Homo sapiens: one gene and its partners. The protein of the gene in region 3 binds, or shares a complex with, the protein of the main gene of each other region. Each region holds a gene or a part of one and is shown on either strand. Other genes may lie near its edges. The genes, in order: KBTBD2, KBTBD8, CUL3 and KBTBD4.

The links.
Region 1: CUL3 (region 3) and KBTBD2 share a complex: the UniProt entries of both Homo sapiens proteins name them as parts of the BCR(KBTBD2) E3 ubiquitin ligase complex.
Region 2: CUL3 (region 3) and KBTBD8 share a complex: the UniProt entries of both Homo sapiens proteins name them as parts of the BCR(KBTBD8) E3 ubiquitin ligase complex.
Region 4: CUL3 (region 3) and KBTBD4 share a complex: the UniProt entries of both Homo sapiens proteins name them as parts of the BCR(KBTBD4) E3 ubiquitin ligase complex.

What each region holds. Positions count from the first base shown.
Region 1 is NC_000007.14:32,867,749-32,874,783, forward strand, and holds the end of KBTBD2 (kelch repeat and BTB domain-containing protein 2), read right to left. Parts: intron 3,133-7,035; coding exon 1,597-3,132; 3' UTR 424-1,596; downstream 1-423. UniProt on the Homo sapiens protein: Substrate-specific adapter of a BCR (BTB-CUL3-RBX1) E3 ubiquitin ligase complex that acts as a regulator of the insulin signaling pathway, modulating insulin sensitivity by limiting PIK3R1/p85alpha abundance in adipocytes.
Region 2 is NC_000003.12:66,994,181-67,001,334, reverse strand, and holds the start of KBTBD8 (kelch repeat and BTB domain-containing protein 8), read right to left. Parts: upstream 3,029-7,154; 5' UTR 2,980-3,028; coding exon 2,964-2,979; intron 2,355-2,963; coding exon 2,144-2,354; intron 1-2,143. UniProt on the Homo sapiens protein: Substrate-specific adapter of a BCR (BTB-CUL3-RBX1) E3 ubiquitin ligase complex that acts as a regulator of neural crest specification.
Region 3 is NC_000002.12:224,505,348-224,512,382, reverse strand, and holds part of CUL3 (cullin-3), read left to right. Parts: intron 1-800; coding exon 801-1,029; intron 1,030-5,379; coding exon 5,380-5,525; intron 5,526-6,250; coding exon 6,251-6,427; intron 6,428-7,035. UniProt on the Homo sapiens protein: Core component of multiple cullin-RING-based BCR (BTB-CUL3-RBX1) E3 ubiquitin-protein ligase complexes which mediate the ubiquitination and subsequent proteasomal degradation of target proteins.
Region 4 is NC_000011.10:47,571,667-47,575,975, forward strand, and holds the end of KBTBD4 (kelch repeat and BTB domain-containing protein 4), read right to left. Parts: intron 4,034-4,309; coding exon 3,927-4,033; intron 2,125-3,926; coding exon 1,264-2,124; 3' UTR 531-1,263; downstream 1-530. UniProt on the Homo sapiens protein: Substrate-specific adapter of a BCR (BTB-CUL3-RBX1) E3 ubiquitin ligase complex which targets CoREST corepressor complex components RCOR1, KDM1A/LSD1 and HDAC2 for proteasomal degradation.

The DNA of each region.
Region 1 (7,035 bases), on a different chromosome or scaffold from region 3:
TAGCGAAAGCCTAATCAGAAGATAAGGCTTATGGAAAAACAATGCAAGGTAGGGCTGTAAAGGTAATTTAAAGCCAAATTAGAGAGAGCCTTAAATGTGGTAAGGAATCTGGACTTCATTCAGTAGGCAGTGGAGGGGCAGTTCAAGTCTATAAACATGATCAATGATGTGCTCTAAAAAGAAACCATTTTGTTTGGGGTGAGGTTCAGGCATCATCTCAAGCTTCTAAAGATGATGATCAGAATCAGATGATTCTAACATGCCAGCAGGGTAGAAAGACACTAGCCTAAGGAAAGCCTATGCATATCTCTCAATCTTCATCAAACAAAATTTGGAAGAAACCACCTATTACTAGCTAAGTTTGACCTAGCAAAATCAAAATTTAAAAAGCAGACCATTCCCATAACAAAAGAAAAATAGATATTGAATATATACAATTTATTTAATAAATTAATGTCATTCAAAATACAGTGCCAGAACATGGTGCAGTTGAACATGCTAGTAATGTTTGTCATGAAGCACCTGTGCTCATGTTAGATTGGCGGCGCCCCACTACTGCTAGTGGTTCCTGGGATTAATGCCAGAGCAGCGCTAGTTATCTGCTCTTCTGCACAGCTAGTGCAGAGAATTCCTGAACAGTTCACCTTACTAATCCTAACCCCCACACGCACACAACAGGTTAAAAAAAACACACCCTGACAGCTAACAGATCTATACACAATCACTCTACAGTAATGCTTGTTATTAAATTAAGATGTAATGACCTGGTTAACCCACTCTAAATCTTGAAGATGGAGAACTACATCAGCAGCAGATAGTTATATGCATGAGCCAATGTTAACATAATACAGAAAGTGGAGGCTTTTTCTGATTAAAGCTCCACGCAGACCCGCACAATGAGTGGCTGGCAATTCTTACTGCAAGCCTAGCAACTTAAGTCCACACCTGGTAAATGACCAGCTGACTGGAAGACCTGTATTCTAGATAGACAAGTATAAGTTAGTGAAAAGAGAATACATGCACCTAATAGTATAGTTAGACTGATCCTGCAGTCATAGCTTTCCCTGTGTAATACCATAAAATTATGGAAGATCTTCCTCAACTAGAGTATAGGATTTAGACATTTCTATACCAACACGGACATTAGTGTTAAGTGCAGTTGAATTAATTACACTGAAAACTGTATTCCAGGACTTCAGAACAGAAGCACGGGAATGAAACACACATACTAAAATAACCTCAGCACAATTTGTGATACATCACACTAGGAACAGGAAACTACTTTTATAAATGAACTTTTTGAACTGTACATACACAGGGCTAACAATGTTAGATAATCCAGATTCTTATACTCTCATGATTACACATAAAGTTTCTCAATTATTGAATAATCTATTTCATATTATGGAAGCATATCTTTCTGTAAGACTCACTGATATATATTATACTGATGCAAATATTAAGTAGGGCATAAAAATAAAATTTATCAAAGATAGAATTTTATGTACTCATATTTAGTTCTTTCATAGCCTCTTTTGTTTAGCAAAGAAAATGACAAAGCACATAACTCAGGCGTGCACTCCCTGAACTTCCCCACTATACAGGTGGTAGTGCAACCATTTCTCCATCCAGTTCAAACTCTTCTGTCCCATCCGTTGAAAAAAGATAAGTTGGTGGTTTCCATGGAGACTCTTCAAGGCAGGATGGATAGAGTTTCCCCACAGTGCATCGAAAATCTCTCCCCAAGTCCCACAGTACACGTTCAGATATATGCTGCCGCAGAGACCACCGGTCAAGTTCCAGGTCATATTGGTAGGTGACGTATTTAGCTCGCTCATTTAAGTGGGTTTCTCGCATAAACACACATAGAGAATTTGAGATCACAACAGCTCTAACACAGGGGTCAGAGTACCTCTTAGCAGGGATGTTGGCTGCCATTTTCCACTCATTTTTATTCACATCATAAATTTCCACAGTTACTGAAGACCCATCTACAGTGCCAGAGGGGAGTCTTATGCCGGAATTGGTAGCAATATGCAACCCTCCAATATAGAAAATTTTATCACCAAAAGCTGCAGCTGAAGCAAAGGACCTACTAGTCTGTCTCATGGCCATTTCTACCCATGAGTCAGACCTTGGAAAATAACAGTACATGAGGTTCAGTGTCATCACATAAATGCAGTCATGAACCACAACTGCTGCACTCCATTGCCAAGCACAAGGTAAAGGGCTTACCATCGTCCACTCATCTTTCTCAGTGTCGTATCTTTCTACGGTCCTCCGATTAAGTTCTCCACCTACGCTATCTCCTCCAATTGCATAGATATAGCCTTCACAGCAAACCAAAGATGGCTTTATGCGGACAAAAAGCATTGGGGTCTTTGGAAACCAGGTATTTTGCTGTGCATCAAACCAATAAAAGCAATTCACAGTTCTGAAGGCAGTCTGAAGTTTGCTTGTTTTACTGTGATTTGTTTTTGTGTTTTTCAGAGGAACTTGACCCCCTGCTATGTAGATATCATTATCAGGAGTTACAACGGTCCCAACCTTATGCAAATCAGCTGGTGGGCTACATAACTTGTAAACTTTTTCTGCTTGGGGGCTGTAACAGACAGAAGAGTAAAGACTACAAGGATTTTCTGAAGATGCTTCAATGAAAATCATCATTTCCTCTTTAGTCATCCCAAGTCTTGGTTTGAAAAACTTGGGCATGGACTTATACAGACCTTGAACCACCACTGACTTATCATTGGGTGGCAGACCTTGAAACCAAGCTCTCTGTGTTACTTCTGAAAGTGCATCAATTCTGATTTGGCTAAGAACAGAAGACAAATACTGGGATCGTGATTCTGTGTTATACTCTAGCCACAGCATAGCAGCTTCTCGAACGGTTTCTTCCTTTTCTACATTTAAATTGTCACTACTGAGAATATCTATCAGTAGGTCATGTGACAGCTGCATGAACGCGTCCTGATGATACACAGCAGTGAACTTGTGCTCCACCATTCTTTTAGCACTCTGTTTTAATTCCTCACAACTGAAGAGATCAGCAAAACTCAACAATCGTACACAATTCTCTGCATTTATTTTTTTAATTAAATATTCTCGACAACGTTGTAACACATCTTCTACCTAGAATGAGAAGGAAAAAAAAAACAGGCTGATAGGGCCAGGACAGACACATTTTACTTTTATGTAAGACGTAAGTATATTAATCAGATGCCCATAGTGTAATTTTTATTTTCAGATACACACATCTGGGCTGAGATAAGGTCTTCTGGTAGTAATAAACTCAGAAGACTATAAAATTTTGCAGTATTTTTTCCTGCTCAGTGGCCTACTTAACTGTTCTATTTAGGAACCAGCAGTACAACAATAAATAGGCTCTTAAAAAACAAAACAGCCTTAAAGAATAGGTAAGGAAATTCACACATAAGTCATACTTTCCTAGACTTTATATATAATTGAGAGAACTATATGAAAAAATGTAAATAAATCATAGTATAGAGAAAATTATTGTTGTTGAATAACTGGATTCTGGTTTCCTCAATTTGAACACAGTCACATAAAACCAGAAAATCATGCACAATGAGTAAGAGTAGTTATTTGCCATTCTTATCGAGAGGTAAGATAACAAAGCAACACGAAATAGACTTACGTGCAGTTATAAATCACCTACATTTAAATGACCCATCTTAGCCACTGTAAGCTTCCTAGATTTGTTTTTTCTTAAGAAGGTAGATCTCAGTTGAATCAGATGTGCTACCCACTATACTTATTCAGCATCACAGTGATTAACTAGAAACTGTTTACACTGACAAGTCAGGTTGCTTGGATTTAAAACTTAATTGGCCAATTAGTACCTGGAAACTACTTATTAGGAAAGAAGCTTCACATCTCTAAACTTCAATTTTCTCTTATATAAAATGGGGAAATAATAGTTATCTCCCTCAAATGAGCCCTGTAAGGATCAGATGAGAATATATATAAAGTATCAGTACACCATCTGGTACTGAAACATATGATCACTTCATGTGGTTGATAGTGAAAGTAATATTGGTAGTCATAGAATGCCCCATCTCAGGCTTCCAGGGCAACACAGTCTAAGAGGCAGAGTCCTGTTTTGCATTTGAGCAAGCAGAAGTAGTATACGGTTTTCGTTAAAATGGCAGAAAAAAAATGTTAAGGAGCAGTGTCAATATTTACAGTAACAAAGTATTCTGGAATCAGATTTTCTTAAAATTCCTTAATGCCTTAGTAATTCTGAGAAATGCCTGCTTTTAAAAGAAGGACCAACAAAAAATTAGCTGGATGTGCTGGTGCATGCCTATAATCCCAGCACTTTGGGATTACAGGGAGGAGGATTACTTGAGCCCAGCAATTTGAGACTGCAGTGAGCTATCACCATGCCACTGCATGGTGGCATGCCACTGCATTCCAGCCTGGGCAACAGAACAAGACATGTCTCTAAAAATAAAAAGTAATGACAACTTGCAAACTATATAAAGACAGTGCTTCCAATAAGCATTTCTCCCGTTCAAGTTTGGAATTACTAGTGCACCAGCAAGCTACCCCAGCCTCAGTTTCCCCAGAGTTGTGGGTAGAGTAGAACACTAACGATAAAGTTAGTGTAATAAGGAGTAAAGGTTGGCCAGGTGTTGTAACTCGCACCTGTAATCCTAGCACTTTGGGAGGCCTAGGTGAGAGGAGTGCCTGAGCTCAAGAGTTTGAGACTAGCCTGGGCAACATAAGATCTTGTCTCTACAAAAAAATCAAATAATTAGCCAAGTGTGGTGATGCATGTCTACAGACCCAGCTACTCAGGAGGCTAAGGCTGGGGGATGACTTGAGCCCAGATCGAGGCTGCAGTGAGCTGTGATCTCACCACTGTGCTGCAGCCTGGACAACAGAGCAAGACCCTGTCACACAAAAAGTTGAGTATCCCTAATTCAAAAATTCAAAATCCAAAATGCTCCAAAAACTGAAATGTTTTGAGTGCTGACATGACACTTGAAATACTCACGGGAGCACTTCAGAGTCTAGATTTTTAGATTAGGGATGATGTAAATCTAACATATAATGCAAATATCCTAAAATCTGAAAAAATCTGAAACTGGCTGAACTGGATTTCTGGTCCCAATCATTTTGGATAAAGGGTACTCAACCTATGGAAGATTAAAAAGGAAGGAGACTACATAAAGCATGAACTGAGTTCTGGTTTCCAGAATTATACCCAGGTGTTGGCATTCAACCAGTGTCATGCATACTCATTCAGTGCATATTTATTAAGTACTTAACAAATATCACGAACAGTGCTCTCCAAATTTAACCTTTGATCTAAAGGTTCTCCCTCTGAAGAAACTTAGTGAAATACAGTGTTATTCCAAAACAGGAGATGAAATGAAGAAAAAAACTCTTATATTCCTCTTAAAATTTAAAAAGGGAACATGATGGGGAAATAAAGAGTAAAACAGTTTGTCATACATAAATATATCAACCATCACTTGTTTTGTTTAAATACTTCTCCTTAATTGCTCAATATGGTCACATAGCCATTATAAATATTTATCATAATTTCCACCAAGTTTTCTGTGAAAAATAGTACCATGAAAAATTAGTATATCTAAGCTCTAAGCAAAAAAAAAAAAAAAAAAAATTGAAACACTTAAATTCAATAAACACTGTTAAAAATTACTTTAATTTGGCTGGGAGTGGTGGCTCATGCCTGTAATCCCAGCACTTTGGGAGGCCAAGGCGGGTGGATCATTTGATGGCAGGAGTTCCAGACCGGCCTGGCCAATGTGGTGAAACCCCACCTCAACTAAAAATACAAAAATTAGCTGGGCATGGTGGTACATGCCTGTAATCCCAGCTATTCAGGAGGCTGAGGCAGGAGAATCACTTGAACCCAGGAGGCAGAGGTTGTTGTGAGCCAAGATTGTGCCAGTGCACTCCAGCCTGGGCAACAAGAGTGAAATTCCGTCTCAAAAAAAAATTACTTTAACTTGAAATCAAAATTCTCAGGTATATTAGGTAGTAAAACACACGAAACCAGTATAAAATTTTCACCTATCTCTTTTATTAACAGATTTACATTCCCATCACAAAACTACTTAGTTTACTGGGTAATCAAATCCTATTGTTTTTCCCTTACACATTTTGTAAAAAGAAAAAAACCTTTTACCTTCTAAAACACGTAATAAGAAAATTACATAGATAAAAGACATTACTGGGCCAGGCATGGTGGTTCATACCTGTAATCCCAGGGCTTTGAGAAGCCAATGCAGGAGGATTGCTTGAGCCTGGGATTTTGAGACCAGCCTGGGCAACACAGTGAGATCGTGTCTCTACAAAAAATAAAAATATTGGCCCAGGGAGTGGTGGCTCATGCCTGTAATCCCAGCACTTTGGGAGGCCAAGGTGGGTGGATCACGAGGTCAGGAGATCGAGACCATTCTGGCTAACAACGGTGAAACCCCATCTCTACTAAAAATACAAAAAATTAGCCGGGGGTGGTGGTAGGCACCTGTAGTCCCAGCTACTCGGGAGGCTGAGGCAGGAGAATGGCATGAACCCAGAGGCGGAGCTTGCATCTGAGCTGAGATCGCGCCACTAGACTCCAGCCTGGGTGACAGAATGATACTCCGTCTCAAAAAAATAAATAAATAAAAATAAATAAATAAATAAATAAATAAAAATAGTAGCTGGGCATGGTGGTGCACACCTTTAGTCATCCCAGCTACTCAGGAGGCTGAAGCAGGAGGATCACCTGAGCCCATGAGTTCAAGGCTTCAGTGAACCATGACTGCACCAATGCACTCCAGCCTGGGTGACCGAACGAGACCCCATCTCAAAAACATAAATAAAAAATGTTTAACAATGTTTCCTCACAAAATAAACCACATAATAAACCAATAAGCTACAACTCATGTATGTAACTGAGTAAAAAAATGCTTACCTGTAGGCTGGACACAGTGGCTCACGCGTGTAATCCCAGCACTTTGGGAGGCCAAGGCAGGTGGATCACGAGGTCAG
Region 2 (7,154 bases), on a different chromosome or scaffold from region 3:
AGCCATTCCAGATTTCCAGCCGTTCTAATTCTTCCACTAGTGATGCAAGACGTAGAAACATTAAGTACGATTTTCTACATCCCACACAGGAAGCAGCGCTGGTACCAAGAAACTTCAGTACAAAAACCTCTAGCAAGAGATCAAATTCTAATCCTTGAGGTTTCTAGCCAAATATCTTTATTTCAATGCACATATCGTATCCCCAGAAAATTTCTCAAGTATTTTTTACTCCTTTTAAAAATTGACTTAACAAAATTAAAGAATTTAAGATTTTAAGGAATCAAGAAAATTAGAAATCTATCATAGCATACTTCTTTTAAAGTAAAATTTTTTTCCAGGTCTTCAAAAATAAAAAATGAAACTGCAAGGTGAAAATGTCATACTTATGTAAAGTTACTAATAAGTATACTTACTAAGTATTATACTTAATAAGTATACTTAATATGTATACATATATCATATTTATTATGTATGCTTACTAAGTATTATACTTAATAAGTATACTTAGTAAGCATACATAAGTATGACATTTAAATGATATAATCCAGATTATTAAATTTCAGTAAGATATAGACATTTTTACTTTGCAGTTTTTGTTTTGTTTTGTTTTGTTTTTGTTTTTACTATTCAAATGCAATATACAATAAAAATGTTTTAAAGGAAACTGTACCAACTCTTGTTCCTTAAGAGTCATATGGCTACTAAGAAGCCTGGCTCTGTAATCAAATGTAGCCTCTGCCATTTACTTGTTGGATAGATGATTTAGGCAGGTTATTAAAACTCAATCTCACTGAGCCTCAGCTTCTTCATAAGTAAAATGGAACAACAACTATGCAGAGATAGGATTATAAAGATTATATAAGGCAATACATGTAAAGTAAGCTTAGCCTAGAGCTTGATAAGTAGTAACTGTGACATATATTTAAACATACAAATGACCTAACCATATCTAATAGATAATCTGGGTAAGTGAATCTCACTAGAAGTTTCCATTACCAGGCCAAACTTCATACCTTCTGCATATGTGAGTTTTTTTTTCTTTCCAGCTCACTGTCTTGCGATGATTAATACTTAGTAGTCCAATGACCTACCCTAGGCAAGTCTAAACGGTTACATCACAAGCATCAGACTGAAGTGACTATATTTAACCCAGTATTCTGAGAAAGAGGAACCAGAAACTACTGTTGGAACATTATATGGTTATGTGCCCTATAAAGGTAAGCACCTTCAAAAGGAAAAATCACATTCAGAGTGTGGTTGATAACTTTACTATTATTTATGCACCACTTGTGAATACTGAAAGGCTTAAAGTGAGCATTTGACACAAAAGAAGTTAAGCCCATGCAGAAAACTGCCTTTTCCACTCATCTTAAAGTAGGAAGTTATTTTTCAGACCCAAGTTTTTAAATTTTACTTTTAAAAGTTTTATAGTAGACAATATAAGTAAAAACAAAAACTTCGTTTAACATACTTCTAGAAATCTTGGATATTATTAATTTGGGGCCTTAGGCACAAAGAAACTATATTCATTCTTGCTTTGACCCCCATAGCATTTAAACAATCTATTGAGTGGTAATTTGTTTTTGAAGGAACATGCTACATGTTTTAAACTATTTTATAAAAGAGTCCCATACACTAAAGAAACATGCATTATGGATAACTTTTTGAAAGAAATTCTAGATCAGCACTGTCCAATAAAATTGTCAATGATGAAAATGCTGTATTTCTGTGCTGCCCAATATGGCAGCCACTAGCTGCAGGTGACCAGCAAGCACTCAAAAAGTATTTAGTGTACCTGGGGAACTAAATGTTTTATTTTATTTAACTTATAATTTAAGTTTAAACAGCCACACATGGCTACTGGCTTCCATACTGACCAGCACAAGTCTAGATTTTCTGGTCATTTACCTCAAACACACACACACAGGCCCACTAACTTAAAAAGCAATCACCCGAAATCTAGAAGAATCCCTCAAGTCAAAAGAAGGTCTTAGTTAAGAGAGGACTTGTTTTCTAGTCTCAAGAAACAAAGTCATTGGTTTCATTTCATTATCGCATCTCAATATAAACATCAAGTGGACAATACTGAGGGGGAAAGGGAGCTTGGTGCAGATACCAACAGAAGTTCCTACCATCATCATACCTGAAGTAAGGGCTGATTGCAGCAAGAACGTTTCTATGACAGGAAAATGTTTTCCCGTGATCCACTTCCACTACAATGTCTGTCAACTGTCCTTCATCGTACATTGTTTTGAGTTGCTTAAGAATACTGCAAGCATGGAAGGGGTCCATGGCATCGCTGGCTGGGTCTGAAGATGGAATCCCATTCGGTGTTGGGGAAGACTTACTTAAATCTAGGAGGAGAAAAATCGTACAACTACAAGAAGTGCCGAGCCAGTTACGGCATCGCGGGATTTTTCTGTTTGTGTGTCTGCTTGCTAGGCTTTTTCCCCCTACAAGATATATACAAATGTCTGTGGATATACGCACGACCTCGTGGGACCGCGAGTTAAGGATCTGGGAGACAGAGGGCGGAGCGCGATCGGCGGAACAAGTTCAAAGGCCAGCCTGCTCCTGCGGAGCCCGGCGAGCCCGGCACCCGTGCTCGCGGAGGAAACGCGCTCGCAGCCCAGGAGAGGCGTCTGCGCGGACTCCGCCGAGAGCCGAGGGCAGAGCCTCACGAGGGAAGCTCGAACAACGGCGGCCGCCGGTGCCCCCTCAAGCCGCCTCCCGCTGCCTCCTGGGGCGCAGCGCCGGCGGGTACCCAGCCTCCCCATCCCGGTCCCGCCGGACCGCCCACCGCCCTCCGCACCATTCATCCTCCCTCTTCTCATTCCCCTCCACCGCTTCATCCTTCCCTCTAGCTCCGCACCGCTACGTCCTCATCCCACTGCCTGTGGCCGGCCCCGGCCCACCTTCCCCCTCACCTCCCTCCACGCCGCCCTGGCCACCACACGACCCACCTGCCGACGCGGCCATTTCTCGATGGGGCCCCGACTCCAGCTATTTAAAAAGGAAATGTCATTTCGCTTCTCTAGCTCCCGGGTTCCGGCTCTTCTAAGCTTCCCCTGGCCAATGGGGTGTCCTGTGCATCTGGCTCCACCCCTAGCCTCCGAATTCCTGGCGCTGATTGGCCACGACGCGAGCACATGCGTGTCGGGAAATGTAGTTTGATTGCCCCGGCTCCCGCGTGGTCCGGGTCGGGCGGAGGCCCAAGCCGGGAATTCCTATTGGCTGATTCGGATGGAGGTGGAGAGCAGGGAGCTGGCCAGCCTGTGGCCGTCGAGCGCGCAGTGCCTGCCGGGAGAGGTAGTCTTCTGGCGGAGGAGAACTGTCATTCTGAGGGGCTGGGGTAGGGAAAGCTCTTCAAGTGCGAATTTCCCCATTTTAGGCCTCTCTCCTGGCCCCCGGCACATTTTTTTACCTTTTTCTTCTTCCGTAAACTTCCTGCCAGTGACTAGCTTCCGGTATGAAATCAAGCTCTGCGTGAGAGCTGTAAAACCAGAAAAATGTGGAAATGGACAGGAGGGCTGTTGTCCAAAAATGCAAAGGAAATCTGACGTCCCACCCTGAAGAAAAATATCACAAGGCCCAAAAGCAAGGCGTCTCTGATGAGTCACCTATGACACCCAATTGAAATAGCATCGCCTTGGCCGGGTGCTCTGGTTTCCACAGATTAACTTGGTCTGGTTACAGCGGCTGCTTAGGATCTTCAACTCCCACTGGTGCCTTGCTTTTCTAGCACACCCAGAGAACACCTGTTCCTCACGTGAACATTACAAGGGGATCCAAGATGCTTTACTTTTTGCTCTTGGGAAATGGAGGGGATACAATACTAAGTATTCCGGAATTTCCTTTGAAAAAATACCGGAATGCCCTGAGCCCGGAGCCAGGGATGATTACTGAAGCCCTGGCTCTTTAGTCACTATATGTGAGAACTGACATAAGACCTTTCAACCCCTGAGCGCTTAGATCCTTCATCTGTAACGTGAAGTAATAGTAATCCGTACTCCATGGATTTCATAGGCTGCAACCTTTTGGAAAGAAAATCAAAATTTTACTGTTGACGAATTTTTATTTACTCATCTTGTGTTTCTAACATCTAACGGGGTGCCTGGCACATTATAGATGTTTCATATTTTAAAAATAAATGTAAGGTGCAAATGAGCTAACATTGGGAATGCTATTTCTAGATGTTAAAATGTAAGGAAGTATCAGCGAATGGGAAGAATTTCTAGTAGACATATAGTTAGCCCGTGTGCATAACTTTTCTAGCACTGAAAAGATCAAACCGTTGAACTTCTTGATAAAGAAAGGATCTTGGAATTTAAATTGTGATTGAGAAAGAGAAATAATTATGAAAAACAATTCAGTTCTGTCTTCTAGGTCTGCTGAGAAATTTAGAACTTAAAATACTATAATCCCATGCAAGTTAACAGGAAGTGGTGTTTCCTCATGACTGGGGTTTCTGCATATACATATGCACTTATAATTTCTTCTTTGTGAATGTCCTGTATGCACGTTTCTGGATAGATGAAATTGACTTAATTTTGGTTACTCATAACTTTATTTTTTCGTTTTTATGATGTTGCTTTCTAATTTATTAAAATGGTAGCACTTTATGACAATATGGTTAGTATTGAGGAAAAAAATGGCGTTAATCCTTAGGGTTTGACAACATCTGACGATATTGCAAATAAAAATACAGGGCATGCATTATTTGAGAAATATTTAAACTGAAATATCATTTGTTGTTTATCTGAAATTTAAATTTAATTGGGTGTTCTGTATTTTATCTGGCAACCTTTTCAAATCTGTTAAAATAGAGGAGTTTTGTTTGTGCTTTGTTGTTGTTTTGTAGCCATCTATCTATTTAAGCCTTAAGAAACTTGGCCAATTTTTTAAAAATTCAATTCTCAACTTAGTAACAAACAGACTTGACAATATTGTTTGATTAGTGAGAAGACAGTGTTCTGATTCTTTGACCCACAAAGATTTATAAATTGGAGATGCAGCAGAATACAAAGAACAAAAGCCAATCTAAAAATAAATAGAAAAAAAATTATAGGTAAAAAGTTGCCATTTATATGACACTGTAAATGGACTCCATTCTACTGGGCAGATGGCATTACATAGTAAAGATTTAATCATCACTAAAATGCATTTTTAAAAAACACAGAATATGTAGGAGGATCTCGAAATTCAGTCAGTTGTACCACAACAATTCTTTCTCAATGATCTGTAAGAATACTGGGGAGATTCCTTTTCAGGATTGATACTAAATAGCCAAAGGTTACAGCTTTGTTTTCAAACACCTCTAATTTGAATTTTAGTAAAAACCTCCTGAATCTACTGCACATCTGGAAAGAGCAGCAAAAGTAAACCAGTTTTCATCTTAAGGTATTAAGTACTATATTGCAATTTACTCCTATATTTAAAGTTTAAAGTAAAATCAATTAAGGATGGAAACTGAAAAACTGAACCAGAATATTTGAAGGTCCTATATTTAGTTCAAATTAGACACTTAGAGCTTTATTATTTTAATATTTTTTTTTACCTAGGAATCACAAGCAAAGAGAATTGCTATAATCATGGTTGCTTGAGAGAAGAAAAGTTTTTACGTTTAAATTCTAGCAAAAATGAAGGATTATGAAAGCATCAAATTTGGAAAATGAGAAATTGAAGGCTCCTTGTTTTTTTCTGCTTTCATTTCAAGAGAATGACTTTTAGCAATTATCAGCTATACCCAGGCTACTCTCAATAATACCACACAACACAAGAATGATAGCAACTCTGATGAAGAAGGTGTAAAAGAAAATAGAACTTCACTTCTGCAAATCAATTCTGCAGTTTTCCAATTTCCCTGTTCAGTACTGGTTGGGGCTGTGAAATTGACCAGAGCTATATAAAATGAAAGTAAAGACAGAATACTTGAAACTCATACCTTTTAGCAACTGACATCCTTATATATTTATACTTCTCAGCCTACAGCTACAACCTTCTTGATATTTTCAATGTGACTTTTTTTTCTTGCTTAAAACTTCTGCATTGGCTAGATAAATGAAACAACAAAAGTGATTATTCAATATAAATTTAATATGACATCAGATACACAAAGTTTTTTAAAATTTCTAAAACTTTATATATTGCCCATGATTTAGTTTCTTTAAATACAAAACTCTAAATAGATACTAACATTAGGTTTACTGATTGGGCACCACTGGGCTTTGTTGTATTTTTAGTTTTTTATTCCCTTTGAGGTTATATGAGGATTCAACATGGTAATAACTAGAAGATTGCATTTCATGAATCACTGAATTTGATCATACTGGAGGATATTAATGTGCATTAATTTTTAAGTATTTGGAATTTAGCATATACATGAAAAAAAGACTTTGAAGCTAGTGGCAGTAATATTCAGTTCCTCAGAAATATTGATTGCCTCCTCCCACAACCTGCATTCTAAGAAGGCACTGTCTGAATCAATGTTTCCTATACAAAACTAGATAGATAGATAGATAGATAGATAGATAGATAGATAGATAGATAAAGATTAGATGGATGTAGAGATATGAGATTCCTAATCTCAAGGATCTTATGGTTTATCTGTGAAAATAAAACTTATTCCCATGAAAATCAACTAGAAAATGAGAACTAAGGGCAACCCCTAGTTAGCATAAAATAAGTATTTCCAACAATTAATATTAAGGATTTCGAAAGAGATAAGAAATTCTGTTCAGCTGGTGTGGGATTTAAGCTGAGCATCCAAAGAGGATACACCATAGAACTATTTGCAAAAGTGATGTGGAGTACTTTCTTGCCTAATTGCTTTATCTTGGCTTGACCCAGAAGGTAAAGCATTCACTTTAATATTGATAGGGCTTAATTTAGGAATAGAACAAGGAAAAGGAATTAATGGTTGTGTTACCTACTTTATTGCACTTAATTTCACCTTTTAATTAAATTTTCTAAGAACAAAGTTACAATGAAGTGACCAAAGCCTTGAGAATTTCAATAACCTGCCCGTAGTCTTTTAGGGGTCTTTGGCTCCAAAGCCAACTGTCTTTTGATAACAGCATGTAAAGGTCTGGGAATAAATGGAGTATTGAAATTGAAGTGTAGGATTTTCTCCCTATTGAACATGTCTGGTTCTT
Region 3 (7,035 bases):
GGCTCACGCCTGTAATCCCAGCACTTTGGGAGGCTGAGACGAGTGGATCACTATATCAGGAGATTGAGACCATCCTGGCTAACACGGTGAAACCCCATTTCTACTAAAAATACAAAAAAATTAGCCGGGCGTGGTGGCGGGCGCCTGTAGTCCCAGCTACTCGGGAGGCTGAGGCAGGAGAATGGTGTGGACCCGGGAGGTGGAGCTTGCAGTGAGCTGAGATCGCGCCACTGCACTCTAGCCTGGGTGACAGAGCGAGACTCTGTCTCAAAAAAAAAAAGAAAAAAAAGATGAATAGTTATTTAAAAGCTCTTATTTTCAAACTTTAGTGTACATGTTTACTCTTTGAGACTGGGAGTGGGATGGCACTGGAAGACTTAATTAACCAGCAGTATGCCAGCAAAGCTTATGATAAACATGATGAATCTTTCTGGTTATAATTTTACATTAAAACAAATCAAAAAAGAATGTCCCACTGTATCTTGGAGTCAGATGCTTCTAAGCTTTTGACCCTCACTGGCGTGTATATACTTGTTCTGCTATTTTTTGGAGTACATTGGCACAGTTTGAAAAACATTGCTTACAGATAATGTTTTAATTTAGTATTATGTAAATACCAAAGGCTTTAAAGGATATAATTCAGACTATATCAGTCTTTCGTGTAATGAGAAATTACACAAAATGCTAATAGTACTTATTTTATTTAGGCTGATTTATTATAAACACTGTAGAAACCCAGCTAAAAGCAAAAACACTCTTTTCTTCTATGTTTAAAAAATATATATATTTTTAAATGGCAGATGGAAAGCCAGAAATTTTTAGCAGAAAATAGTGCTTCAGTATATATAAAGAAAGTAGAAGCTAGAATTAATGAAGAAATAGAACGAGTGATGCACTGCCTTGACAAATCAACGGAAGAACCAATTGTAAAGGTGGTTGAAAGGGAACTCATTTCCAAGCACATGAAGACTATAGTAGAAATGGAGAATTCTGGGCTAGTACATATGTTGAAAAATGGAAAGACAGAAGGTAAGTGTTACCGATTGAAAAATAATTAAATCCTTACTCTGCCTTATCGATATTTTTAAAATTTTCCTACAATTAAAGCAGATAATATCAGCTTTCAAGAAGTTTTGGTGTGTATTGTTAATTTGTCTCCATTGTTAACTTTAATGGGATTTCCAAGCTTGATTCTGTCTTACTAACGAAGATTTTAGATATTTCTAATGAATTGAGCATTTCCTGTCTTTAAGTCTCATTTTACATTTAATCCAGAAGATAAAAGGTGTAATAGTATTGGTGAGCCCAGTGAGCTCCTCATTCATTCCTGTACTTCCTGTATACCAAAGGGTGTGGGCTCTCTTTAGTCCTACATACTCTCTTGGGGTTTTGTGATTCTCTTAAAACCTTAAGTTTCCACCTTAAGATTTTTGTAGACTTTCCTTTGGGATTTAGTTGTGACAGGGTGCTGAAAATGCAAAAATATTTGTGTCTTCCATATTGACATACTTAGATAAATTAGATTGGTTTGGGGAACACTGAAGTTACAGAATGGAAAAGGAGGAAGGAGGAGTGCATAAAAGTAAAGAACATTTTTGAGATAACTAACATTTGTTTTTTATAGCTATTTATTTTCCTGGGGTAAAAGAAAAATTGTGACAAGTATCCTAGAAGAAATTACAAGTTAAAAGAACAATAACCATATCCTCTATTCTTAGTTTCTGATGCTTTGTTTTAAAACTTTGCCTTTACCACTTATATGGTATTAGGAAATAAAAAACATGGTACTTTGTTCTCCTGCTTCCTAGACGAAATCTAAGCAATATTTTATCCACTTCTTTTTAGTAAAAGAAATACATATTGCCTGTTGGGGTCATGAGCTATGTAGGGAATGAAAAAATTTTTTAAAGGAGAATTATAAAGAGAAGGAGGATACAAGAGAAAGGAAAACGAAAGCTGGTGGGAAGTTGAGCCATGTTTATCTCTAGTGGAATCCTTACCTTGTGTTTTAAAATTGTTAAATGTTTGTATATATGAGAAATCCCTGAAAAGTTATATGTAATTTAAAAAAACAAAAAAAAAACAAAAAAAACTAGAGAGGCTTCCTTTTTAAAAGACTCTTCAGTTAAACCTTTTTTGTAAAAGCCAAAAAAAAAAAAAAAACAGAAGTCATCTAGTATATTTGCTGTGTTTTCTAAAATTGAGGTCCAAGTCAGGGGTTGGCAAGCTTTTTTGTTGTTGAATAAAATGGCTTGTGAGCCACGCAGTCATAGTGAGAAAATAGTCCTAGACAATAACAAATGAATAATCCTGTGTTTCTATAAGACTTTATTTATGGGCCCTGAAACTTGAATTTCATATAATTTTTATGTGTCACTAAATAGCATTCTTTACAGTTTTTCCTCAGCCATTAAAAATGTGAAAACCATCCTTAGTTCATGAGCTGTACATAAATAGATGGCAGGCTGTATTTGCCCCACGGGTTCTAATTCGATGACCCTTCTCTAAGTGGTCTCTGGTAGACTGGGACTTTATGCAAAGCATTTGCCCTGCTTAAACAAAATGAGTATTGATAAATTATGTAATGTACTGTTTAGGTATTGAATGAATGCTTTCTTACCTACCTTAGGGGATAGGAAATGTTTGATGGAGAGGTTGTTGGGCATACCTGAATTACAGCATCTCTGTAACCTGTGTGGAGATGTATGTAAAAGGTGTCAGGTATGCCTATCATGGCGAGCACTTACGTGAATGAAGGAATACCATAATAGTACTCACCAGAGTTCTCCTTTATTTAGTACCTTAGGTTTCCAACAACACAGTAGCTATCTGTGATTCTAAATTAAATTTTAAAATCCTGCTTTTGTCCAGGCAGGGTGGCAAACGCCTGTAATCTCAGTATTTTTGGGAGGCTGAAGCAGGTGGATCGCTTGAGCTCAGGAGTTTAAGACCAACCTGGGCAAATTGGTGAAACCCTGTCTCTATGAAAAATACAAAAATTAGCTGGGCATGATGGCACATGCCTAGTCCCAGCCACTTGGGAGGTTGAGGTGAGAGGATCATTTGAATCTGGCTGGGGAGGTCAAGGCTGCAGTGAACCAAGATGATGCCACTGCACTCCAGCCTGGGCTACAGAGGGAGATCCTGTCTTAAGAAAAAAAAGGTGGGGGGGTTAATTTTTCTGAGCTTCCGCTAGAAACCTGGTGGCAAAATATCCTAATTGTGGTAGGCCCTGCTCTTGGAAAAAATGTTGCTCTTGTTGAGAATATAGCAGAGCCAACTTCACCATTATGAAGCCAAATTCTCATAAATCAGAAAATGAAAAACAGTTTTCTCACTGTGAATGGAGGATAAATTGGATTGATTATTAGATGCAGATAGCACTATGAAATGAAGTTCAGAGGTATCTTTTTTTTTTTTTGAGACGAAGTCTTGCTCTGTCGCCCAGGCTGGAGTGCAGTGGTGGGATCTCAGCTCACTGCAAGCTCTGCCTCCCAGGTTCATGCCATTCTCCTGCCTCAGCCTCATGAGTAGCTGGGACTGCAGGCTCCCGCCACCACGCCCGGCTAATTTTTTGTATTTTTATTAAAGACAGGGGGGTTTCACCGTGTTAGCCAGGGTGGTCTCGATATCCTGACCTTGTGATCCGCCCGTCTCAGCCTCCCAAAGTGTTGGGATTACAGGCGTGAGCCACCGTGTCTCGCCAGTATCTTATTATTTTATTAAGTGTATGTAGAAATAATGATATTTAATTTTTGCATGCCAAATTATTTTCATTTACTTTTACATTCCCTTTACCCCAACATTTAAATACAATGAAATTGTAGTAATTTATGTACAACTAAATACACAACATGTAATATCTAAGCAAAACTTACAACAACATAGGATTGAAATAGACAAGTTGTGAACCATTTTGTTAGAAGTATTTGGTGTGCCACATTTACTGTAGTATGTGTCCATAGATTGTTGCATTTGTAATACCTGTTCTAAATATGGGAAACTTGGTTGTAATTTATGCTAAGTATGTGAGAAGCTATAAAATTGCCATGTGTAGGTTACTATGGGCATATATTATTAATGGAAACTAACTAAAATTTGCTGCTGAAAGTCACTGAAATAAAGTTTAGTAAAACTTTGTAAATCTTGCTTTGAAATATTTTAAAAATGTATACAACTTTAAGCTCTAAACTACTCTTAGAACTGTAGACCAAGGTAGGCAAATTAGGGCCTGCCTGGTGCACTACCAGTTTTGTTAAAAAAAAAAAAAAAATCAAGAGTATTTACACATGAAAATTTATATAAATTTTCAGGGTCCATGAAGTTTTATTTGAAACATAGTCACACTGAATAATTTATGTATTATCTGTGGCTACTTTCTTGCTACAGCGTCAGAGTAGTTGAGTCAGAGCTCTATGGCTCACATTTTAAAATATTTATTATCTGATACTTTACAGAAAAAACATTGGTCAGCCTCTGATCTAGAAACTCTTAATGCCATTTTAAAAAGTTATTGATTGTAAAACTTTTAAAATTATCATTGTAAAGTTCTGACACTGTGTTCTCCCAGTAAGTTGTTATTGCAAAGAAACACTAGACATATGGGAAAACTGTATTTTAAAATCTGTATTTTAGTCTTGTGAAAAATGATATTAAAAAATGGATAGGATCCAGAGTTTTCATTCTAAATTTAAAAAGTATAGTGAGATAGACCAAATTTTGAAGTACAGATATTGGCTTAGGATGCTACCTGGGAAACATTAGGGATTGCTCTCAGGAAAATATTGAAGAAGTGGTATTTATATTATACATTTCATAAAAACTTTACCTGAGGTGTAATGAAGTAAATCCTAGTATAGTTCATTTGATTTGTTTTCATGATTATCAGTTAAACCTTTGGAAATACCCATAAGACTTAAACTGGCTTTAAAATTTCTTCCTCATTACAGGGACTACCAATTACCTCTTAATTAGTGACCCTTTTTGTAGACGTTTTGTAGTGTCATTAGGTCTGCATTAGAGTTATGTAGGATAAAGTATTTATGAACTCAAAACTGCAGTTGCCATGTTTTTGTGACATTACTTGTTTATTATGGTTTTTGACATCTCTTCCATGTAAATTTAAATTTGCTAGGACATTTAATTGATGGTTTCAAAGCATCTCATCTAAAAGTTGTGTTTTATAAATTACAATAATAACCATTAACTAGCCTACTTCTTCATGTTTTCATATCAATATATGTATATTTTTAATAGTCATGTGGTCAGCAAATGGGGGTAATGGAGAAATAAGCTTCTCTCAGTATTATAGCGTGAACAGAGATTCGTGTTTTTTTCTTTAATCTTTAATGTAGCCAATTTGTGTTTTCTGATTTGTAGACCTTGGTTGCATGTACAAGTTATTTAGTCGTGTGCCAAATGGTTTGAAAACAATGTGTGAGTGTATGAGTTCCTATTTGAGGGAGCAAGGTAAAGCTCTTGTTTCTGAAGAAGGAGAAGGAAAGAATCCTGTTGACTATATCCAGGTAAGTAAACCCAGAAGATTCTCTGTGTTTATGATAAAGGCATTTTGACAAGTGCTAAAAAGGCCACTTTTACCATGCTGTGTATTGTGTACTTTCAACTTAATTGTCCCAGTAGTAAATTAATATTTGTAATTATCCTACATATTTTAGGATTTTGCAAGGTGTGCGTATTTATATCAGGGAGCTAAAATTCAGCTGCTACTTTTCATTTAACTTCTTTGATGAAGACCTTGTTTAAATAGCCTCAATAGTGAATGTGAGGTTCTTTGGTATGCCTTAGTGTTTGTATACTGTAGTATATTGGAAAAAACAACTGGTTTAAGTATTTTTTGTTTGAAAATGTTTTGTTTTCAAGGAGTACTATGAATAAATTATGTGCCATGTTTTGTGTTTTAACATAATCAGCTTTTTTTGGTACATTTTTTAAGCTAATTTTTTTCACTGGCTAACCCATTCCATCAAGACAGGAGAATGAGAAACAGTGAGGAGGTTCTTTGGTTCGTTTGCATTGTATTAATACATATATGGAAGTTATAATACTTCTCTCATTGACATTTTTAATAGAGGCTTAGATATAGGCTTGAAAATAATATCAAAACTGTAAGTTTAAAAATGAATATACATGTTTATTACCAGCAAAGTTAAGATAAACATACATGGTCATAAGTGTATTATTTATGGAAAAATTATTATAATGTGTCCTAAATTTTGTTTTTATTTCTAAGGGCTTATTGGATCTGAAGAGTAGGTTCGATCGCTTCCTCCTGGAATCATTCAACAATGACCGTCTCTTTAAACAAACTATTGCGGGTGACTTTGAGTATTTTCTCAACCTCAACTCCAGGTCTCCTGAATACCTCTCATTATTTATTGATGATAAGCTGAAAAAGGGAGTCAAAGGGGTAAGTAGTAATGCATTTGAAAATAACATTTAATTTTATTTAAAGATATAAAATTATATGTAAAATTAGGACATTTCACAGATAAAAATTAAGCATGACCCATTGCTGTGCTTAAATGGGTGCCATGGTCTATTAAAAAATATTGTTTGAAATACTTGACATGCCCAAACGTAGTTAGACATTTCACTTAATGTGTAATTGGCTTCAAAAACAAGCAACTGGATGGGCTTGGTGGCTCATGCCTATAATCCCAGCATTTGGGGAGGCCAAGACAGGAGGCTCTCTTGAGGCCAGGAGTTTGAAATTAGCCTTGTTAACTTAGTGAGACTCCATCTCTACAAAAAAAAAGAAAAAAGAAAAAAATTAGTGGCACACAGTGGTATACACCTGTTGTCCCAGAAGCTGAGGCAGAGGATCACTTGAGCTCAGGAGTTCAAGGCTGCAGTGAGCTGTGATCGCGTGACTGCACTCTATGCTGGGCGACAGAGCAAGACCTTGTCTCAAAAAAACTGAACAACTGTCCAGGTATGGTGGCTCATGCCTGTAATCTCAGCACTTTGGGAGGCCGAGGTGGGCAGACCACCTGAGGTTGGGAGTTTGAGACCAGC
Region 4 (4,309 bases), on a different chromosome or scaffold from region 3:
TGATACAGAACAAAAAGAGCTTAACAGGACCAACAGGGCTTAAGCCCAGACTTGACGTAACAGAAATGTGCCAATAGGTAATAGGTAATTTTTCTTTCTCTGACTTGTTTTGTTTTCTTGAAATAACACTGTTGTGTGGCTAGAAAGGAAAAGATTTAGTGTGGCTTGTATTCATGGGATACAGGACAGGGATGGGGCTATCATCTTTTCTTGAATAGGGCTAAAGAAGTATTTTAACAAAAATCTATTATGTACCTAATATTGTGCCTAATAATATTTAGCACCACAACTCAAAAAACATTTAGCACTTGAAAAAAGGAGACTCACCTCTGGCTCTTTGCCACTGTCAGAATCTGAATCTCACTGGCCCTGTGGAGTAGGGATCCTATCTGGAGAAGTGGGAGCATGGGCTGCAGTCAGGACTGCTGCAGACTGAGCCATGTGATGGTACGTAATGAGTTCCCCTGAGGGAATGAAACACCCTCACCCCTTCAAAGTCACCCCTTTGGAATTCAACACAGACACACATATCCCTTCAAAAACTTTTATTTGTATCAACAGTTCCTAGCTCTTGACTTAGCTTAGAGCTTTTAAAAGAGCAGACACCTTATATATTTGAGATTGAAAAAGTTTCTGCTATTAATCAGAAATAATCATTTCTATTTTCTGGCTTACCCCTTGGAATAAGCCAAAAATAAAACCAAAGTTACATTTCCTGACAGATGGATAAGAAAACAATAGAAGGAACATCCTGAATTCTAGAGTTGACTCTTGCTGGTGAAGTACACCTTCAGCTTAGTCCATTCTCCTAAGTAAAGCCTGAAGGAAAACTCTTAACACCTAATTCTTTGTGGAAAAATGATCAACTAGCCATTTCACAGGCTATAGAACAAAAGTACAATTGGGCATCTTTCCTTATGTCCTGGGATCAGGGGTGCTTACATTTAACATTGATCAGGTAAAGAGGAGAGGCTGTGCCTAAGGTCTGAGAAAAGGCTTGCTCTAAGCAAGCTGTGGTGAGGCACAGGATGACTAGGGAATGGCAGAGAACAGGCTGGCCTACTGTCAGTTCAAGCAACCAGCTGAGCAGCAGCAGTCTAAAAAGCCCCAAACAGAACACCTCCATGGATTCAGGGAAGGGCTGAGGCACTGCCTTTCTAGTATGTGCCAAAAAAAACATAACTCTGAATTGGGGCCCAGGGGACTTTGAGTTTGTATGGGGAGGGAAAAGGAGTGAGCAGTTCTCCTCCCCTCCCCACAGCCTTAGGCCAACACAAACTGCAAATTGGTAAGCAGCACCTTAATACCTCTTGTGACAGTTACGGCTGAAGTGGCAGGGTCAAGCTTGTAGGTGTTGGCATCCCCCTTTTTATATCGGTCCCGGAAGACATAGATGCTCCCGTTACAGCTGGCAATCTTCCAGAGGGATGGGGCAGAGCTCCAGGCCTCAGGAAGGCAAAGCCGGGTGAAGCTGTCTAGCAAGGGATTGTAGCACACCAGGGAGTCCCCTTCAGCCACGATGAACACCAGATCTTTATGCACAGCTGCGTGCATGCGGCCTGCAAAGGGCAGCACATAGGGCTTCACATGGCATTTGTCTGTCTCTGTGTCAAAGCACTGGATGAGTCGGGAAGGTTTGGTAAAGAAGTCCAGATCATTCTCCTCCCCCCCTAGTAAGTAGATGATCCCGTTGAGGTTGGCACCAGCAGCCCCTGACACAGCCACCTCTAGCTGAGTTGTCTCTGTCCACACATTATCACCTACGCGATAATAAATGACTGCGTTGGAGAGGGTATCTTGCAGTGTCTTGCCACCCAGTGAATATATGGCATCTTTCCCGGGCACAGACACCAGGGTGTGCTGGAGCCGGTCCCGAGGCAAAGGAGCACACCACTCCCAGTCAACGGTGGCATTGTTGCACTTCCACATGCGCCGTGGGATGGACCCTCCCACCACATACAAGTCTCCACCATGCTTGCAGGCCGCAGTGATCTGGTGGCACAAACTGTTTTGGCCACTTACACTGATGGAGTCATCTTCTGCACAGTGCAAGGACACAGCCAACGAGTGGGTACGAGATGACTCTTTCCCAATCAGGTAAATGTGCACATTCTCCCCAATTTCCTATTGGCAAAATTAAAATTATATGACAGCTGTTAAATTCTAGGCTAAGGCTCAGCTAAGACACATATCCTTAAGATCCTGGCCCTCACACTTGTTCCTAGCTTTATCATACTACTCTCTAATTACTGTATGGCATCCAACTCTCCTCTAGTCACTTTCTTTGAGGCAATTTATGCCGGGCGGAGAATCTGTTGTATTCATCCTTGTAGCTTTTAAAAAACTCTCATAAGCTAGTGCTTCAGACAAAGGGTGATTAAGATTGTTAACTTGATGACAGTAGTTCTCAAGGAACTTTGAAAGCTCATAGATTGGTGGTACTGGGGTTACAAAGACATCCTTCTCCCCAGCTCATATCAACTTCAAGCCAGAGATAACTTATTCAAAAATAAATAAATAAATACAAAAAATTAAAAAAACAAGAGATGGCCGGGCACAGTGGCTCACACCTGTCATCTCAGCACTTTGGGAGGCCGAGGTGGGCAGATCACCTAAGCTCAAGAGTTCGAGACCAGCCTGACCAATATGGTGAAACCCTGTCTCTACTAAAAATACAAAAATTAGCCGGGCGTGGTGGTATGCACCTGTAGTCCCAGCTACTCGGGAGGCTGAGACAGAAGAATTGCTTGAATTTGAGAGGCGGAGGTTGCAGTGAGCTGAGATCATGCCATTGCACTCCAGCCTGGGAGACGGAGTAAGACTCTGTCTCAAAAACAAACAAACAAAACAAAACAAAAAACAGAGACGACCATTCATAATCTGGCCATCAAAAAGAGGCCAGGTTAGGCCAGGCGCATTGGCTCATGCCTGTAATCCCAAGACTCTGGGAGGCCAAGGTGGGTGGATCACCTGAGGTCAGGAGTTCGAGACCAGTTTGGCCAACATGGTGAAACCCATCTCTACTAAAAATACAACAATTATCTGGGCGTGGTCGTGGGCGCCTGAAATCTCAGCTACTCGGGAGGCTGAGGCAGAAAAATCGCTTGAACCCAGGAGGTAGAGGTTGCAGTGAGCCGAGATCGCACCATCGCACTCTAGCCTGGGCAACAAGAGCGAAACTCCATCTCTCTCTCTCTAGCCTGGGCAACAAGAGCGAAACTCCCATCTCTCTCTCTCACACACAGACACACAAAGAGGCCAGGTTAGGCCAGGCACAGTGGCTCACACCTGTAATCCCAGCATTTTGGGAGGCAGAGGCAGGCAGACTATCTGAGATCAGGAGTTCCAGACCAGCCTGGCCAACATGGTGAAACCCCATCTCTACTAAAAATACAAAAATTAGGCGTGGTGGCAGCACCTGTAATCCCACCTACTTGGGAGGCTAAGGCAGGAAAATAGCCTGAAACTGGGAAGTGGAGGTTGCAGCGAGCTGAGATTGCACCACTGCATTCCAGCCTGGGCAACAAAGTGAGAATCCGTCTTAAAAAAAAAAAAAAAAAGGCCGGGCGCGGGGGCTCATGCCTGTAATCCCAGCACTTTGGGAGGCGGAGGCGGGCGGATCACGAGGTCAGGAGATCGAGAGCATCCTGGCTAACACGATGAAACCCTGTCTCTACTAAAAATACAAAAATTAGCCGGGCGTGGTGGTGGGCACCTGTAGTCCCAGCTACTAGGGAGGCTGAGGCAGGAGAATGGTGTGAACCCGGGAGGCGGAGCTTGCAGTGAGCCGAGATTGCGCCACTGCACTCCAGCCTGGACGACAGAGCAAGACTCCATCTCAAAAAAAAAAAAAAAGAGGCCAAATTAACTGATGGCAAGAATGCATGGAGAGTATGCAGTCTCAACAATTAAGAGATTTGCCTTACCTTCAAGCTTGTCCTGAGTGACTCTGCAAAAGCCTCTCTTTCCTCTTTATTAAAGTTGATCCAGGCTTCTATTGCCTCTGTTGGGTTCTGAGAACACGGAACTCCATCTGTGAGAGCCAGAGGAAAGGCATGGTCAATGACAATCCGAAAGAGAAATTCAGAGTAAGGGACTTTAAAGATGTGAACCACTTTATTAGACTACTGCTGGGCATGTGTATATGTGTACATGCATACATACACATATACATGAAATTAACCTAAAATTGCTTTTTTTTTTTTTTTGAGGCAGGGTCTCACCCTGTCGCTCAGGCAGAAGTGCAATGGCGCAATCACCATCACCATAGCCTCAACCTCCTGGGCTCAAGCAATCCTGTTTCAGCCTC